Linked DNA regions of Homo sapiens: regions 1 and 3 are each linked to region 2. The links come from fine-mapping of genetic effects on gene expression. A gene starts in region 2. Each other region holds a variant in brackets. All regions are shown on one strand. Distances are from middle to middle.

What was found. PIP is the estimated chance that this variant, and not a neighbour inherited with it, causes the effect.
Region 1: its variant is fine-mapped to the expression of ELK3 in whole blood (INTERVAL, PIP 0.97).
Region 3: its variant is fine-mapped to the expression of ELK3 in whole blood (INTERVAL, PIP above 0.99).

Annotation. Positions count from the first base shown.
Region 1 is chr12:96,074,223-96,080,577 of GRCh38, forward strand. No RefSeq gene overlaps it. Among named protein-coding and RNA genes, the nearest start is that of TRD-GTC2-8, 41 kb to the left of the region's middle. The variant A/ATTATTG (reference allele first, on the strand shown) is at 3,376.
Region 2 is chr12:96,190,851-96,197,471 of GRCh38, forward strand. It overlaps ELK3 (ETS transcription factor ELK3), which reads left to right and starts at 3,525. Exons shown (of 5, transcript NM_005230.4): 1 at 3,525-3,855. RefSeq lists a silencer at 3,350-3,489 and an enhancer at 4,821-4,900.
Region 3 is chr12:96,225,470-96,232,090 of GRCh38, forward strand. The region is part of intron 2 of ELK3 (ETS transcription factor ELK3); the gene reads left to right. LOC124902991 (a long non-coding RNA gene) reads right to left here. Exons shown (of 2, transcript XR_007063414.1): 2 at 5,815-6,621. Among named protein-coding and RNA genes, the nearest start is that of ELK3, 34 kb to the left of the region's middle. The variant T/C (reference allele first, on the strand shown) is at 3,187.

The sequences.
Region 1 (6,355 bases), 120 kb before region 2:
TGCTTGAGGTCAGGAGTTCAAGACCAGACTGGCCAACATGGTGAAACCCCATGTCTACTAAAAATACAAAAATTAGCCTGGCATGGTGGCACGTGCCTGTAATCCCAGCTACTCGGGAGGCTGAGGCAGGAGAATCACTGGAAACCAGGAGGCAGTGAGCTGAGATTGCACCACTGCACTCCAGCCTGGGCAACAGAGTGAGTGAGACTCTGTCTCAGAAAAAAAAAAAATAAGGTTAATTTTATGTTATGTGAATTTCACCTCAATTAAAAAAATTAAATCACTTTCCCCACCAAATATTTGCCCAGATGCTCAGCAAACAGGTTCAGGGAAATGCTCTGAATGGTGGAATGAGGAAATACCAAGGAGGAGCTGATGGGGTTTGGTCTCCTCACAGCCCCATTGCAGAGGCTGAGAGGGCAACAAGGAAGGGAGAGGAAGAACAGCCCGAGCCACCCACCTAGCAACAGATTCTGAACAGGAGAGAAAGTGTGTGGACTGGGGTGGGCTTCATCAGCTTGCCATTGAGAATAGAACTATCTGACATTTACCTATTACAGAACAACAACATTACTTTTTTTGCGGAGTCCCTTTGGTTGGGTTGATGACAACTGGCCATTCAGTTTCCCTGCATTAAGACGTTCATCCCATAAGCAAACAATGCTTTGAGTCTGGCAGCCAGCCCCTAGAAGAGTTCAAAGACTAGTGAATAAGACGTCAGCATTCACAGCGGGTTTCCTTTCACCTCTGCCTTCAGTAGAAACTTCTGGAGGCAGGCAAGGCACGATGGCTCACGCCTGTAATCCCAGCACTTTGGGAGGCTGAGGCAGGCAGATCACGAGGTCAAGAGATCGAGACCATCCTGGCCAACACAGTGAAACCCCATGTCTACTAAAAATACAAAAAAAATTAGCTGGGTGTAATGGTGCGCGCCTGTAGTCCCAGCTACTCGGGAGGCTGAGGCAGGAGAATTCCTTGAACCCGGGAGGCAGAGGTTGCAGTGAGCTAAGATCAAGTCACTCCAGCCTGGTGACAGAGCGAGACTCTGTCTCAAAAAAAAAAAAAAAAGAAAAGATAAAGAAACTTCCGGAGGCATTCTGTACCTGGGGTGGGGTAGTCAGAGAAAATAGATGATGCTTTGTTAAATGTAAGTTTTAGATAAAGAACAAGTACTTTTGAAAATAAATTGTAATTGACCAGTAAAAATGTATATATTTATGGTGTACAACTTGATATTTTGAAATATGTATACATTGTGGAAAGGATAAATTGAGATAACATATACATTACCTCACATACTTTTTTTTGTGGTGAGAACACTGAAAATCTATTCTCTTAGTGATTTTTAAGTATATAATATATTGTTATCAATTATAGTCATTGTTTGTACAATAGATCTCTTGGACTTATTCCTTTTATTGAACTCAAATTTTGTATCCTTTGGCCAACATCTCCCCAAACCCATTCTTTGGTAACCACCATTCAACTCTGTTTTAATGAGTTGGGCTGTTTTAGATTCCACACAGAAGTGAGATCACGTGGTTTTGGTCTTGCTGTGCCTGGCTTATTTTACTTAGCACAATGTCCTCCAGGTTCATTCGTGTTGTCACAAGTGACATAATTTTCCTCTTTTTATTTTAAGGCTGAATAGTATTCCATTGTATATATACATTTTCTTTATCCATACATCCATGATGGACACTTACTTTAATTCCATATCTTGGTTACTGTGAATAATGCTGCAATGAACATGAGACACAGATATCTCTTTGACATACTGACTTCATTTCCTTTGGATATACAATCAGTAGTGGGTAGCTGGATTGCACGTGCCTTCATCCATTTGTCCTGCTACCACAAAATACCTGACACTGGGTAATTGATTAAGAACAGAAATGTATTTTCTCTTTCTTTTCTTTCTTTTTCTTTTTTTTTTTTTTTTGAGATGGAGTCTCGCTCAGTCGCCCAGGCTGGAGTGCAGTGGTGCAATCTCTGCTCACTGCAAGCTCCACGTCCCGGGTTCATGCCATTCTCCTGCCTCAGCCTCCTGAGTAGCTAGGACTACAGGCGCCCGCCACCACGCCCAGCTAATTTTTTTTTTTTTTTTTTTTTTTTTTTTTTAGTGGAGACGGGGTTTCACTGTGTTAGCCAGAATGGTCTCGATCTCCTGACCTCGTGATCCACCTGCCTCAGACTCCCAAGGTGCTGGGATTACAGGCGTGAGCCACCGCTCCTGGCCAGAAATGTATTTTCTCACAGTTGAAGAAGCTCAGAAGTCCAAGATCAAGGCTCCAGCATTTGGTATCTGATGAGGACTGCTCTCTGCTTCCACAATCACGTCTTGTTGCTGTGTCCTTGTGGCAGAAGGAAGATGAGAGTAAAGCCTCCCCCTCAAGCCCTTTTATAATGGCCTGAATCTCATCCATGAAGGTGGGGCCCTCATGACTTAATCACTCCCCAAATGGTCCCACCTCTTGATATCACCACCATGGGGATGAAGTTTCAACATGAATTTTGGAGGGGACATATTCAAACCATAGCAATATGCCAGTTCCATTTTTAATTTTTTGAGACACCTCCATACTCATTTCCATAGTGGCTATACTAATTTACATTCTCACCAACATCATACAAGGAAGAACAAATACTTTGTAAGCATAAGTATGTCCTCCAATGCAATGTTTGGGACATAGTTATCCTTAAAAAAAAAAGTGTTCCTCCTTTATTTTAAATTCAAACTTAATGGAACACCCTGAATTTTGATTAGCCAAATCTGGCATCTCTGAAATTTTAGAAATTTCTACTGATGGATTTTCAGACTTTGTGGGTTTGGAGAACACTTTGTGTCCTCTGGGACATGCACCGCCCCACCAGCCTTTTCCTCTGTGGAATACTCAGTTTCCCAAATGACTGTGCAGCTTCAAATACCACAAGCCTCAAGTTTGTAACAAATGGCCTCAGGCCTGGTTTTATTTGCTGATACCCTGCTGGTGGCAGCGGTAGCCCCTGCAATTTACACCAGGTGGGAAACGGGCTGCAGCATCCAACCTTCCTAATGGAAACAGGCTGTGATCCAATGGAGTGTGAAAGGTGCTGAGCTCCACCCACTCCTCAGCAACCCGGTTCCTTAGGAAGAGCTCTCTGCGGGCAGGACCTGGTTCTGGGAGAAAACTTCCCGGAGTTGCTCAGAAGTTGGCCCTTCTGGATTTTGACATTTCCTCCCACCTTTGTTCTCCTGGGTTTTCTCAGGCCAAGGAGGGCTATGTGAGGAAGGAGTCAGCCCACAGCAGGGAGATCTTTTATAAACGGGAACCCAACAAGGCCAGATTATATGCCCATGGTGCCAAACTGGACTTTTAAATTATTATTATTATT[A/ATTATTG]TTATTATTAGAGACAGTGTCTTGTTCTGTCACCCAGGCTGGAGTGCAGTGGTGACATGATGGCTCATTGCAGCCTCAACTTCTTGGGCTCAAGCGATCCTCCCACCTCAGCCTCCTGAGTAGCTGGTACTACAGACTCGTGCCACCACACCTGCATGATTTTTAAATTTTTTGGAGAGATAGGGTCTTGCTATGTTGTCCAGGCTGATCTTGAACTCTTGGGCTCAAGTGATCCTCCTGCCTCAGCCTCCCAAAGCATTGGCATTACAGGTGTAAGCCACTGCGCCTGGCCTGGACAACTATTATTAATGCCCACTTGCCTCTGTTAAGACTTAAACTCAAATACTGGACGAAAGGAAGAAAAGAACTCTCTGTTGACTTCTAACCCTGGGAAATGACTGGCAAGAATGGTAATAAACAGCCCCTTTCCACTCCTCAAGTCCACCAGTCAGTTCCTTTGCTTCATTTACTTAAAGATGTAAAGGAGTTGGGGGGAAAAAAAAAGAGGGGGGGCTTGATCCTCATGGTGAGAACCACACACCCACACCCATCCTACCCTGCGAAGTTCAAACAACTGTGCTATAGGCTGGGACGGCAGGCTCGTTATGCATGTCTCCCTGGGCGGAGGCAGTCTGCCAGACCCCCGAAACACACAATACTTTGGCTCTTGGTCAAAAACACCAACATTCATTGCTGACAATATCCCCACCTACCACCGGTCCCTAGCCACCCCTTCCTGGAAAATGTGATGGAGGAGGGAGAGTCGGCCAACTCCAACACCACCTGGCCCTCAGCAGCAGACCTGGACGCTGGCCCGGAAGCAGCCCTGGCCCGTCCGTGGACAGCTCCTCGGGGGTGTGCATGGAGCAGCATATCCTTCTTCTCACAGCTTCAGCTTCCTGCAAGGCTGCGGAGTCACCTCTGTTGGCTTGGACCTCTCTGACCTCAGATGACATGGGAAACGGAGGCCAGTGGGTGAAATTGGGAGGCTGAGCTGTGATGTGCCACTATCCGGCATAGGGTGGGACACATTGTCCCTGAAAAGGGAGGCTAACTTCCCACCCCACCCAGCCACAGCACAGCCTTTCCAGGGGGAACCAACCCACCCCCTCTCCCCGTCTGGCTCTGAAAATGTGTGCCACATACTGTAGCCCAGTTGCTGTCGGAGGCAATTTGAACTCAACCAAGGAGCTGACACTCAGTTCTTTGTCTACTGCTTTAGGAAGTCTTAACTCCCTTTAGAATAGCTGGGTTTTGGAGGCTTTTTGGGGAGGGGACTGATAGATATAAAAGCATACTTTCAGAGGTTTGCTTACTAAACAATGTCATGCTGAAAACTCACAGTGATCCCAGCAGCCGCTAACTGAAATCATACACTCGAATCAATTTTTGCTAATCCAGAAATCTGGCAGACTTGTCCAGATCCCAAAGGAATAAGAATATAAATGTAATTTGGCTCATTCAACATGGTCCTTAAAAAGACTAAACAAAACAACCACTTATGTAGTAGGAGAACCTAATAATAAGACAGGCCTTCCTTCTTTGGTAGACTCAGTAACTGAATTTTCCTCTTGCACACAACTGTTTGGGACCATTAAGATTACCAAAGTGACAGAGAGAGACTCTATTTCTTCTCAGCTTTTCTGAGAACCTTTTTGGAGGGTCTCTTATGTATTAATATACCTCTGTCAAATTTCTCCTCAGCCTGGGGCCCCCTTCGGTGTTGCTCTCCCCCCGAGGAACACTCCAGGCTTCAGCTTAAATGTTCCTTCCTCAGAGAAACTTTTCCTGACCACCCCCTTCAACCATGGCTTAGCTTCTCCTGTTACGATTTTTTTTTTTAGATGGAGTCTCGCTCTGTCACCTAGGCTGGAGTGTAGTGGTACAAACTCAGCTCACTGCAACCTCTGCCTCCCGGGTTCAAGAGATTCTCCTGCCTCAGCCTCCTGAGTAGCTGGGATTACAGGCACGCACCACCACGCCCGGCTAATTTTTGTATTTTTAGTAGAGACGAGGTTTCACCATGTTGGTCAGGGTGGTCTCAAACTCCTGACCTCATGATCCACCCACCTTGGATTCCTAAAGTGTTGGAATTACAGGCCTGAGCCACCACGCCCAGCCTTCCTTTTTTTTCTTTTCTTTTTTTTTTTTTTTTTTGAGATAGAGTCTCACTATGTCACCCAGACTGGAGAGCAGTGGCACGATCTTGACTCACTGCAGCCTCAGCCTCCTGGGCTCAAGTGATTCTCTCATCTCAGCCTCAGTAGCATGGACTACAGACGCACTCCACCATGCCCAGCTAATTTCTGTATTTTCTGTAGACTCAGGATATCGCCATATTGCCTAGGTTGGTCTCGAATTCCCAAGCTCAGGAGATCCACCTGCCTCGGCCTCCCAAAGTGCTGGGATTACAAACACGAGCCACCACGTCCAGTCCACCTGTTACGATTTCTTGTTGTTCTTGTTACTGTTGGAGCACTTAACTACTAATGACATTTTCATCTTTAATTGTGTGATGATGCATTTAATGTATGCCTCCTTTCTAGACTATAAGCTCCATAAGAGCAATGTTATGGGTCAAGTTATTCCCCCAGCCTCCAAAAAAGATGTTAAAATCCTAACCCCTGGTACCTCAGAACATAACCATAGTTGGAAGTAGGGCCATTGCAAATGTAATTAGTTCAGATGAGGTCATACAGCAGAAGAGTGAGCACCTAGCCCAATATGACCAGTGTCTTTATAAGAAGACAGCCTTGCTGGGCACAGTGGCTCACACCTGTAATCCCAGCACTTTGGGAGGCCGAGGCAGGTGGATCACCTGAGGTCAAGAGTTCGAGACCTGCCTGACCAACATGGTGAAACCCTGTCTCTACTAAAAATACAAAAATTAGCTGGGCGTGGTGGTGTGCACCTGTAATCTTAGCTACTCAGGAGGCTGAGGCAGGAGAATCGCTTGAACCCGGGAGGTGGAGTCTGCAGT
Region 2 (6,621 bases):
ACAAATAGCAGCTTTCTCTTAGAATGCAAAGAACAGAAGCTGCCGACACCTGAAAATAAAAGCTATGCCCTGTGCTTTGAGGAAGACCAGAGTCAGCTCTGAATCACCCATGCATGTGAGGAGCTGAGAGTAGTCGTGTGGACAATCCAAAATACCAGAGAAACTTATCAGGATTTCATATGGGCTGGGAAACCCTAAAGCTGCCCAAAAGTGTGTCAGAAGTGTTTTAGATGAGGTATTTCTTCAAAACAATAAAACTGGTTGACAAAAACATGCTCCCTTACATGTTAGGATTCTACAAAGATTTATTGTGCAAAAATAAAAGCATAAAAATCACTGAATTAAAATGTTTGGCTTTGAATATACTTTTTTTAAAAAACAGACTTCATATACTTCATATGTTTGTGTATGTATTTTTTATTTTTTTAAGAAACAGGGTTGAACAGGTGCGCTGGCTCACACATGTAATCCCAGCACTTTGGGAGGCCGAGGTGGGCAGATCACGAGGTCAGGGGTTCGAGACCAGCCTGACCAACATGGTGAAACCCCGTCTCTACTAAAAATACAAAAATTAGCCAGGCATGGTGGTGCGTGTCTGTAATCCGAGCTACTCAGGAGGCTGAGGCAGGAGAATTGCTTGAACCCGGGAGGTGGAGGTTGCAGTGAGCAGAGATCGCACCATTGTGCTCCAGCCTGGGTGACAGAGTGAGATTCTGTCTCAAAAAAAAAAAAAAAAAAAAAAGAGAAAAAGAAACAGGGTCTCACTTTGTTGCCCAGGCTGGAGTGTGAACTCTTGGGCTCAAGCGATCCTCCTGCCTTGGCCTCCTGAGTAGCTGGTATTATAGGTGAGAGTAGTATCACCACACCTGGCCCCTAGACTATTTTTCACTATTTTTTTTAAGTGATTTATTTTTTTAAATTTTTTTGAGACACAATTTCACTCTGTCACCCAGGCTGGAGTGCAGTGGCTTGATCTTGGCTCACTGCAAACTCCACATCCCAGGTTCAAGCAATTCTCGTGCCTCAGCCTCCTGAGTAGCTGGAATTACAGGCATCTGCCACCATACCTGGCTAAGTTTTGTATTATTAGTAGAGATGGGGGTTCACCATGTTGACCAGGCTGGTCTCGAACTTCTGACCTCAGGTGATCCATCCACCTCGGCCTCCCAAAGTGTTGGGATTACAGGCGTGAGCCACTATGCCCAACCCTAAAGTGATTTTAGACTCACAGCAAAACTGAGAAGGAGGCACAGCGGTTTCCCATATACCTCCTGCCCTGACACGTGTACAGCTTCCCCAATCATCAACATCCCCCACCAGAGTGGTACCTTTGTTGTAATTGAATCTACATTGACACATCACTATCACCCAAAGTCCATGGTTTACATTAGAGTTCATTCTTGGTGTTGTATATTCTGTGGGTCTTAACAAATGTGTCCACCATTATAGTATCATACCGAGTAGTAGTTTCCTTGCCCTCTGTGCTCCTCCTGTCCACCCCTCCCTCCCTGCTAACCCCTGACAACCACTGATCTTTTGTACTATCTCCATAGTGCCTTTTACAAAATGTCATATAGTTTGGAATCATACAGAACATAGCCTTTTCAGACCGGTTTCTTTCAGGCATATATCTCCTAAAGCAAAGCAACATGAGTTCTTAACTGTGTGGATTTTTTTTTTTTCCCTGAGGATAATAAGTTTACATTCTCTCAGTCCAACAGCTGGATCATATAGGGACACCATAGGTGTTCTACTGAGTGACAGAAGAAGATGACTGGGGATTAAAACAATAATACCCTAATTGGAAAATTAGCTGTGGGAAATCAGGGGTTGATAAGCAGCCCTCTTTTCCATATCTTCTCCTTCTGCCCCACTCTCCTACCGTGCCCCCACCCTACACCCCACGGGTTTCCCACTCCTTCTCAGAGGTCTGGAGGGCATTCTCCCACCCTTTCCAGTGGACTACCCACAGGAGCCCTGAAGCAAATGCCCGAAGGAAATTCCTATCACCTGTGTGCTCTGATAGGCACTTGGAGCTGGGATGTGGTACTAATCAGTAAAACATACCCCGTGCCCTTTAGCAGCTCACAGTTGATGGCAGTGAGAAATTTGTAAACAAAATAATCTTTCAGGAGAGACTGCAAAACTAGAAACAAACGTAGTGGAGGAACTCTTAGAATGTGGTCCTTTTGAAAGGACTCACACCCGGCCCCCAGAGAATCTGACTTAATTGGCCTGGGTTGAGTATATTGTTGGAGAGTGTCAAAACACTCCCCAGGTGATTCTGACATTAGCCGGGGCCCGGAACCACCCCCGACCTACTGAATCTGGGACTCCAGGAGAGGCCCAGCCACTAGTGGTTTAACAAGCCCCTTGGGTCAAGTTTGAAAACCAGGGGTCTGGGCTGCTAAGTGGCGGCATGGGAATGGAAGGTTCTGGAAGGTGAGCAGTGAGGTTGGGGCGCAGGCCTGGGAAGGGAGAGGCTCTTCAACAGCCATCCCCCCCAACCTTGTCTCAGCCTAGGGCAATGGGCAGGCTCTCCCATCAGAGCCTGGCCTGAGCCCTCAGAGGCAGGACCTCCTTGAGGGATGTGGAGGTGTGAAGACCAGTTCTGAGACCACAGAGGCTCCCTTCAAGCCTCAGTCTCTGACCCTGCGGGCATTATTTCCATGACTTCCAGTGTTGTGGCTCCTTATCCTTTCCCCACAGGCTCGCCCCCCAACTGAGGGCTGGCTTTTTTATTTTTTTGAGACGGAGTTTCGCTGGTTGCCCAGGTTGGAGTGCAATGGGGCGATCTCAGCTCACTGCAACCTCTGCCTCCCAGGTTCAAGCGATTCTCTCGCCTCAGCCTGCCAAGTAGCTGGGATTATAGGGACCCACCACCACACCTGGCTGTTTTTGTTGTTGTTGTTTTGGTATTTTTAGTACAGACGGGGATTCGCCGTGTTGGCCAGGCTGGTCTCGAACTCCTGACCTTAGGTGATCCATCCGCCTTGGCCTCCCAAAGTGCTCAGATTACAGGCGTGAGCCAGCACGCCCGGCCGAGGGCTGGCTTTTAAAACACCGAAAACCCAGACAGGAACGGTGTCCATCTCCAACCCCAGACGGAAACTGTGCCCGCACCCACAAGAAAAGCAGTCCTTTGCCCAGAGCAACCAAACCCTGAACCCCACTCTCGATTCCCCTCTGCCCCCCAACTCTTCCATCCCAGCGGATGGGAAACAGCGAGTCCAGCCGCCTCCCCACCTCGGGACCCCCCTCCCGGGCCAACTGCGCAGGGCACGACCCCGTCGTGGTGCCCCGCGCGCTCGACCCCCAGGGGTTGAGGTGAGGAGGGATCCCCGGTGTCCCGGGAAGCGCGGCGGCTTCTGCGGGTTGCGGGCGGACCCCCCTCCCCGTGGGGAGGGGCTGCGGCCGCGCGGAGTCGCCGCGGGTCGGAGGCTCCTCCCCGGGGTGGCCGCGCAGGAAGCGGGGCGGGTGGGGGCGGTGCGGGGCGCGCACGGGGCCGGGGCGGCGGGGGAGGCGCGGGCCTGGGCGGCCAGCCCCGGCGCACAGCCGCGGCCGGGGCGCGCGGCGCGGGGCGGAAAAGCCTGTTTACACAGACTGCACACCGCCTGGGGAATAATGCAGTAAAGGAAGTGAGCCGGCTCGGCCTGACTGCTCCAACTTCCTGCTCTCACACACACCAGAGGGGAAAAAAAAAGAGGAGCGAGAGAAAGAAAAAAAGGGGGAAAAATCAGGATCTCATTACAAGAGCCACAGACCGTCTGCAGACGCCTGTCAGCATGGAAAGTCGGGGGCTTTCGCCCGGGTCCTCCTAGAAATTCCCCCCGAAGAAGACTCCCCCACATCTGGGTAGGTAACAGGGCTTCTGCCTGTTGCTCGGACACTTAAAAAGTTTGTTTGGGGGTGTTTTCTTTTTTTCTTTCTTTTCTTGGGCGCGGTGGGGGTGGGGCGGGGGGCGCCGCGGGGTGGGCTGCGGGCCGGGGTGGGGGTGGCGGTGCGTCCGCGCGGGAGGGCCGGCCGCGGGGAGGGGGCGCCGCGGATGCTCCTGCGCCCGCGTCGCTGCCACCGCCGTCGCCCGAGCTCGCGCCGGGCCCGGGGCTGCGGGGACCCTGCGCCCGCGGCTCCCCTCCCTGGGGCTGCGCTGCGACCCCAGAGGAAGGGGCGCCGGGCGTGCAACCCTGGGAGCTCGCCCAGGGCCCCGCTGCAGGCAGCGCGGGGAGCGGGGGACGGCGAGACTTCGGGTCCCTGGGAAGAACCGTGGCAGGAGCAGGCTGAGTGCCTGGAGGCTGGACCACCGCCGACCTTCCAGCTGGGACCGCAGTCAGGCTCCCCTCGAGTGGGCAAAGTGCACTGGTGCTCGGATCCAGGGAGGAAGACAGGGATGGAGAGGGCGGTGGAGGACATGGGTCGCGAAGGTGTGGGGCTGGGGGCTGCGTCCACTCTCGCTTGGCAGGTGACCCCCGCCCAGGTCACCGCCCCAGGCGCACGCCCCATCGGACATTTAAAAGCCGGTGGTCTCTATTGGGCATGGTTTTGGAGAAGGACCAGGCAAGAAATGATCTTGGGGCCCCTTCCACTCCCCATCCCTGTTTACCTTCGAACTCAACGTTGGCCTGTGACGCTACTGTAACTTTTGGGGAGGCGGGATTAAGATTTTGGAGTAGTTAAAAAGCAAAAATAAAAGGTCTTGGTTTTGTTATCTTTTCTGAACCGAATCATCCTAGGGACAAGCTGCAGTTAGGCGGCGGGTGGAGGTGGAAGCAAGAAATGTTATTTCAGAAACTGCAAAAGGGGCTTTTTAGAAAGAAAAAAAAACGAGTGTCGGGAGAGTTTCTGGCTTGTCTGGAAACGGCAAGACTAATTGCCATGCGCTTCCGCTTTGAAACTGGCAGCAGACAGCATCTTGAAAATGACTCACTAGAGGAGCTCACAAAGAAACTGTGGTTTGCTCCTTCTTAGGTTTATGTATTTGTGCCTTTTACAGTTTCCTTTGTAGTGTTCGAGGGGTCCCCCGCCCCTTCCCCGCCAGCCCCCTCCCACCCTCCCTCATTTGAAAGCCCCTGGCCGGTCTTTAACTACCCCCACCCCAGTCCTCCAGCCTGGGGGTGGCGGGGAAAGGGGAGGCTGAGTTGTTTTTGGAGTTGGCTGCGGAGAGGGTTAAAGGGATTCTGCTGCTGCAGGGGGAAAAAGTTCCTTGAATTTTCCACTGGCTGCTGCAGGAAGAGAGAGCCCCCTTAGTCATTGCTAAGTAATGTCTGCACACACACCAACTAATCTCATTAGGAGTTTCCGCTGCTCGGCACAGGAGGGGTTTTGTGCAGCCACTGTCAGCCTGGGAGCCCGGCGCTGGGGAAGGAGACAAGTTATGGCTTTATTTACTTAGGGGTGCAGCCGCCCAACGAGCCTTTTCAGGACATGTCTTGAAAACTTTGAAGTCACTTTGGCCATTTTGGATTTCAGATTTGCAGGTTTTTCTTTCCCGCGTGTGTATGTGTGTTGAGAGGTGGGGGGAGATAAGCAGCTCACACACACCCATCTTCTCCATCTGTGCTTGTCTTTGGGGGTGGGGGGGGTGTGGAGCATGTTCCAGGCATCTATTCATGAGCCGAAATCGATTTGTGAGCCTTACAAAATACCCTCTGATCTCTTTTTCTTTCTCTCTCGCCATGGCACCCATTTATTTGGAAAAGGTCAGTTAGGAGTTTCAATTTATGAGGATGATAAAATTACAAATTGTGTTAGGAGGGCACATGGGTCAGGCAGTTAAGGAGACTGTCCATAAGTGTTCTTAGAGTTTCCAGTAATGATCCTGCCTAGAAACCCCCCTGAGTTTGAAAAGTGATGGCCTTTCTATGCCAAATATAGCAAAGGCCTTCTGCCCTCTAAAAGTGTTTTTTTTTTTTTTTTTTTTTAATTTAAATGTTGCGTAGAAATGTGTGGCGTTACTAAAAAGGGTCAAAAGGAACCTGATTGGAATGATGGGGCCCCTTTATTGACAAAGACATGTTGCTTTTAAGGTGTTGGCAGTTCTTTTACGGTGGCAAAGTTGTCCTAAAAACAGCCCAAACAGCCCGACCGGGGTATGAGTCAGTGGACATGAGTACAGGATGTCCCTAATGCTATGCCTTCACAGAGTAGGTGCTCAATAAATTGTAGCATTGAAAGCTGTGAGTAGGCTAACAAAACTTATAATAGGTAAGAAAAAAGACTTACGAGATCTCATACATTTTGCATGAGTGTTCCTTAAGAATGGAGGTTGTAAACTCTCTCCAGAGTACATTTCCTTTAAATAAAAAAGGGAGTATTTAGAATTCCTCCTTCTAAGTAATTATTTGGGACACATAGGTTCATTTACGTTAGTGGTTCACAACTAGGAGTAATTTTACCTCCCAGGAGACATTTGGCAATGTCTGGAGATGTTTTTGGTTGTTATAACTAAGGGGGTGCATTGGCTTCTGGAGGGTAGACGCCAGGGGTGCTGCTAACCAGTCAACAATGCACAAGAAAGAATTTTTTTTGCCCAAAATGTCTATAGTGGATTGAGAAAAATCTTATTTACTTTAATGATGATGAAGATGATGAAAGCTCTTTAACACGCATTCAGTCAACAAATAG
Region 3 (6,621 bases), 35 kb after region 2:
TTCATAGCCTTCAGTCAACAAGTATGTTCTGGCACTTTCTGTCAGACGTCTAAGGTGCTGTGCTGAGCACTTCTTCCCCTTGTCTCCTTTAAACTTTACAACAACCCCATAGACAGGTGCTGCTGTCATCATCCTCCTTATACACATGAGAACGTGGAGGCTTGGATGAGAAACCTGCCCAGGTGCACACAGCCAGTGAGCAGCAGAGCCCGGATTTGAACCCAGCTGGTCCACCCAGGTTCCCAGCCAAAAGGCACACACACACCCTGCCTTCTGGGCCATTCATTTCCTTTGCCTTTGAGTGTCTTGAGTTCCAGGTAGGCAGTCAGGCTGTCCAAAGGGTATTACAACCTAAGAAGTTTTGTTTATTACCAAGAGCCTCAGGCTGGGCATAGTGCCTCACACCTAATCCCAGCACTTTGGGAGGCTGAGGCAGGAGGATCACTTGAGTCCAGGAGTCTGAGACCAGCCTGGGCAACATGGTGAGACCCTGTCACAACAAAGAATTAAAAATTAGCCGAGTGTGGAAGTGCATGCCTGTAGTCTCAGCTACTTGGGAGGCTGAGGTGGGAGGATCATTTGAGCCTGGGAGTTTGAGACTGCAGTGAGCTCTGATTGCACCACTGCACTCCAGCTTGGGCAATAGAGGGAGATCCTGTCTCTTAAAAAGAAAAAAAAAAGGAAAGAAACAAATTCAGTACTGAAAAATCCCAGCAAACGATGTGTATCAGGTAGAGCCCAAGGTCAGGAGTCCAGGTGGCTGGTGTGGCCTGCCTGCCTGCACTGCCCCTTTCTCTCTTGCCAGGCAGAGCATGGGGGCTGGCCACATGACCTTTGAGCAGCCCCAGGCATCAAGCTGGAGCTGGCAGTAAGGGCAGGAGCAGCCTCCTATCCTGTTGTATCATGTAGACTTTGGCCACCAGAAGAAATTGCTCCATGTCTTTCCTTCTACAGATATACCTGTCCACATGCACACACACACACAAGTATACACATACACACCTGTCCACATGCACACAGAGATGTCCACATGTGCACACCCATGCCCACACAGATGTCCACATGTCCACACAGATGTCCACATGTGCACACCCATGCCCACATGCACACACAGATGTCCACATGCACACACACATATGCCCACATGCACACAGGCACACACACCCACTTGCACATACATATCCACATGCACACGTGGCCACTGCCATATGCACAGACATGTGCACACGCATACATGTACATGTGCACGCATGGCTGGTTAATTCTTGCTTATAAAATGCTCTCAAGTGATGAGCAAGACGGAAAGTTAGACTCTTAATACAGTTTAAAAAGAAAAGAAGGAGAGGGGGAGGAAGATAAGAAGAAAAGAGATGGTTGAGGGAAATGGAGGGGAGAGGAAAAAAAGAGGGGATGGAGAAGGAGGAAGAAGAGGAGGCATGTCAAAAAGAGATGACGAAAACTACACTCTATTTGACATTTTCCGATGACCTCTTTCTTCCTTCCGTTTTGCCAGTGTCACTCTGTGATGATAGGTGTAAGTTGACTGTGTGCATTGCCCGTCTGTGACCGTTTTCGACTCACAGAAATGGCAGTCTGAAGTGGCTCGGCCTCTTGCTTGAGAGACAGATTGGAGCAGAGTCTTTGTGGATGCAAAGCCACCTGGGCCACTGCCGTGTGTGCCACCCTGAACTTCAAGCTGCCCTGAACCGCGTGCGTTTCTCAGTGTCACGTACAGCTCGGCCTGACCGTTTGCCTTTTAGTGTTCTCTTCCTTCTCGGTGTCCTCCTCCTCTTCCTCACTAACATTCATCCAGAGCCTTTCAGTGCAGAAATCAGGTAGCTGCTGAACTCGGCAGCTGCGTCCTTTTTCCCATCATCTCTTCTGTCCTTTGCTAGCTGTCATTTCTTCCCTCTTGGCTTCAACTGCACATCCCTGGGTTTGTCCTAATAGGGAATTTTTCCCACTTGAGTAGACAAGCATGAGAATATCATTATTTTTATATGTTATATGTTATATTTTTAGCAGAGAAAAAAGTGGAAAATGTGTGCAAACTTGCAGAAGGCCCCCCGGAGGAGGGTCGTCCCTGTGCCCATGCTGTCAGGAAGGCCCCGGAGGAGGGTCGTCCCTGTGCCCATGCGGTCAGAAAGGCCCCGGAGGAGGGTCATCTCTGTGCCCATGCGGTCAGGTTGGGGCTGAGGCACTTTGATCATTGCTCCTCCTCAGAGTGTTCTTTTCCTCCCCTCTCAGATTATAATAACGAGGTAGTTACAGAGTGAGCTCCAGCCTAGATCGTCTGGGTTTGAATCCAGCTCCATGACTGTGGCCGTGTTGCCTAATCTCTCTGAGTCTCAGCTTCCTTTTCTGTAAAGTGGGTATAATAGTAGAGTCTACACTGTGGGGCTGTGGTGGGATTCATTGTGTTCACACGTGTGCAGGGCTGAGAACAGGGCCCCAAACAGGGTAGGCACAATGAAGCATGAGTCAGAATAATAATACAGATGACAGTTTCTCTATCACTAATTTGAACATTGCAGACAGTGCAAAGAAGAAAATTAGAAACTGGGAGGATCACTTGAGCACAGGAGTTCAAGTCCAGCCTGGGCAACGTAGTGAGACCCCTGTCTCTTTTTAAAAAATTTAGCACAATTTATTAAAAAAAAGAAGAAGAGGCCGAGCATGGTGGCTCACGCCTGTAATCCCAGCACTTTGGGAGGCCAAGGTGGGTGGATCATGAGGTCAAGAGATCAAGACCAGCCTGGCCAACATGGTGAAACCCCGTCTCTACTAAAAATACAAAAATTAGCTGGGCGTGGTGGTGCACACCTGTGGTCCCAGTTACTCCAGAGGCTGAGGCAGGAGAATCGCTTGAACCCGGGAGGCAGAGGTTGCAGTGAGCCGAGATTGCGCCACTGCACTCCAGCCTGGCGACAGAGTGAGACTCTGTGTCAAAAAAAAAAAAAAAAAAAAAAAAAAAAGAAGATCAAAACCTTTGTTGCTACGTTGCTGCTCAGGCACATGGAGATAGGGAAACGCCGGATCTGAGTATTATGGCCCTTTTCACTTAGGACCTATCAGGAGCACTTTGTCGTGCTTTTTAATGACTGAAGACAGATGACAACAGTTTCTTTCCTCAGTTGCTTATTTTCATATATTTAATCTGTTCTGAAAATTCAGCTGTGAAGATGC[T/C]TTCTTATTTAAATGACTCTCCCTCACCGCTCTGAATCAAAGCTCTGGCACTTCTCTGAGCACCTGCAGTTGGAGCCAGTCTCCACCTTCTGGACTGTCTTAGTGACTGGTGGGAGCTTTGTATCCAGAGCCCTCGAGGTTAAGAGTCCAGCTGTCCCTCAACCTCAGCGTCTCAGTTCACCCATTGGAAAGTGGTGATGGGAACAGCACCCTTCCTTGTCGGACTGTGTGAGGATGGAAAGAGAAGATAAGATGACGCGGATAAGGTGCTTAGCACAGTGTCAGGCACCTACTCAGTGAAGGCTCCTCATTCCAGTTATGTGTATTTATAAAACTGACTGTATTATGTCGTAGCTGTCTGTATATAGCTGACTTCATCGTGGCCTTCTGGATGCACCACTTTTGTCGCTCTGGTACCTCGGACAGGGTCTGGCATGTATTAGTTGCTTAGTAAATGCTAGACGAGTGAACAAATGGATAAAACACTGATGTGTCCACTACTCAAGTGCACACCATTTATGTCATGAAAGTTGATATTAATGAGTGATAAACTAAAAAATAAAAGTAGTCACTGCTTTTTGTTTATTGTCCCGTAGTTTCCTAGGGCTGCCAGGTCAGATGACCACAAACTGTAGGTGGCTTAAAACAACAGAAATGTGTTGTCTCACAGTTCTGGAGGCCAGATGTCCAGAGCCAGGGTGTCAGCAGAGCTGTGCTCCCTCTGACTCAGGTGGACTCTTTCTTGGCCTCTCCCCAGCCCCGGGCTTGCCAGCAGTCCCTGGCGTGCCTTGGCTTGCAGCAGCCTCACTCGGATCGCTGCCCCCATCATCACATGACGTTCTCCCCATTCTGTGTGTCCAGATTTTCCTTTTTTTTTTTTTTTTTTTTTTTTTTGAGACAGAGTCTTGCTCTGTCGCCCAGGCTGGAGTGCAATGGCATGGTCTCAGCTCACTGCAAACTCTGCCTCCCAGATTCAAGGGAGTCTCCTGCCTCAGCCTCCTGAGTAGCTGGGACTACAGGCATGTGCCACCACACCTGGCGAATTTTTGTGTTTTTAGTAGAGATGGGGTTTCAATATGTTGGCCAGGCTGGTTTTGAACTCCTGACCTTGTGATCTGCCTGCCTCATCCTCCCAAAGTGCTGGGATTACAGGTGTGAGCCACCGTGCCTGGCCGATTTTCCTCTTCTTATGAGGATACCGGTCATTGGATTAGGGCCCACCTTAATGCATTATGACCTCATCTTAACTTGGTTACGTCTGTAAAGACCCCTTTCTAAATAAGGTCCTAGTCACAGGTATTGGGGATTAGGACATCAGCATAGTTTGGGGAAGGACAAAATTCACTCTGTAACACCTCCATATACAGTCATGTACCACATAATGTTCTGGTCCACAGTGGGCCACGTATATAACAGCGGTCCCATAAGACTATAATTCCATATTTTTACTGTACCTTTTGTACGTTTAGATACGTTGAGATACATACATACTTACTATTATATTGCAGTTGCCTACATACAGTATTCAGTACAGTAACGTGCTGTACAGGTTTGTAGCCTGAGAGCATATAGCATAGCCTTGGTGTGTGATAGGCTAGACCCTCCAGGTTTGTGCAAGTACATGCTATGATGCTCGCACAACAACGAAATTCCCCAGCGACACATTTCTCAGAACGTAGCCTCATCGTTAAGTGATGCATGACTGTATTTCAGACACTGCTGGGCTTTTTGTTTAGATTTTTAAAATTATACTTAAAAGGAGAGTGTTGGTTTCCCTCTATAAGTGATGGTTCGATTCAGCAAATCCTAAAAGGAAACTGCTCCCCATGACAGGCACAGCACCTAGATTCTGCAGCAGGTATAAACACTAGACTCCGTGACAGGTGTGACACTAGAATCAAAGACACATCGCTGAGCCAAGTCCCCAGGGTGGAGACAGGTCCACCCAAGAGGAGTCCTGCCTTGGAGGGATTCAGAGTTGCTGGGAATTGAGCAGCTCCCTGGTCTCGAAGTGCACATGATTTTAATAGATGACTTAAATGGGAAGAAAAGGCGACCCTGGGGGCGCCAATCCCGGATTGGCAGTGCTGGGATCGGAGGCTCTGATCACTGTGCTCAGAGGCTCCTTCCTGCATCTACAGTTGTGCGGAGTGCACGTGACGCAGGTGTGGGGAAAGTCTGGAGGGCCAGGGTTCCGCATCCGAGCTCCACCAGGGAACTGCTTTCCCCAGTTAAGCTTTTGTAGAGGCTGCGGGGCAAACCCAATTATAATTCCAAGAAAGGAGTGATGCCCCATCCAGGGAGCGGCATGTTTTGCAACCCGGGTATGGATGAAAGGCCCCTGTTGATTTGAGAAACACACAGGTCATGGGAGGTGCCTGTGGCTGAGCCCGTGAGGGGCAGAAACCAGAGTCCGTAGAGGCCTAAACAGGACATTTAACTGAGGCCTGGGCATTTTACACTTCCTCTCTGTCAAACAGCTTTTTCCCTTGGTCTTGTTTTAAGCCCTAGGAGATAGGTTTGTTACTGTAGTTCTGATGGTGTGAATTTTTGGATAAGTTTTTTTTTCCTTAGGTTTAAACTGAGTCTTCCAGAAGGTAGTTTTATAACCTGATGTAACAGTAAGGATCTTTTTCAGAGATTTTATTTATTAACAAGCTAACAAGTCTTTCACTCCTTAACATCAGACAGATGGACCCTTCATCTTAGAGTAGAGAAGAGCGGGGCCCATGCCCAGAGCATTTCTGTCACTGGCCCTGACAACTGCCAGGCACCTTATGGGTCAAGCCTGAGGGGCAGGAATTCCTGCTGGGATTCACAGCATTCACCACTTCTTGAATAAGGCTTTTTTTTGGAGACACAGTTTCACTCCTGTTGGCCAGACTGGAGTGCAGTGGCGCGATCTCAGCTCACTGCAACCTCTGCCTCCCAGGTTCAAGTGATTCTCCTGCCTCAGCCTCCCGAGTAGCTGGGATTACAGGTGCGTCCCACCATTCCCAGCTAGGTTTTGTATTTTTAGTAGAGATGGGATTTCACCAGACTAGTCTCGAACTCCTGACCTCAGGTGATCTGCTCGCCTCGGCCTCCCAAAGCGCTGGGATTGCAGGCATGAGCCACAGCACCTGGCCTAGGGTTTTTAATTATACATCCACCTCCAGTTGACACGGCCTCTTCTTTCACCTCTGCCTTTTCCTCAGCCATCCAGCCATCCCTTTGGAAACATACCTCCTTCCTCCTGAGGGGCTCAGCAGCTGGTTGGGGAGACAGACATGAAACCAATTTTAGTAGAGAACCCCGTGTAAAGTGCTGGCATGGCCAATGCTGGGGTCTTCTGGGAGAGCAGGGAGGGATGTAGAGGCAGAGGGAAGGCCTCCGGAGGTCAAGACACTTGATCTGGATCTTAAGGAATGAGAATGAGTTTACCCGGCTGAAAAA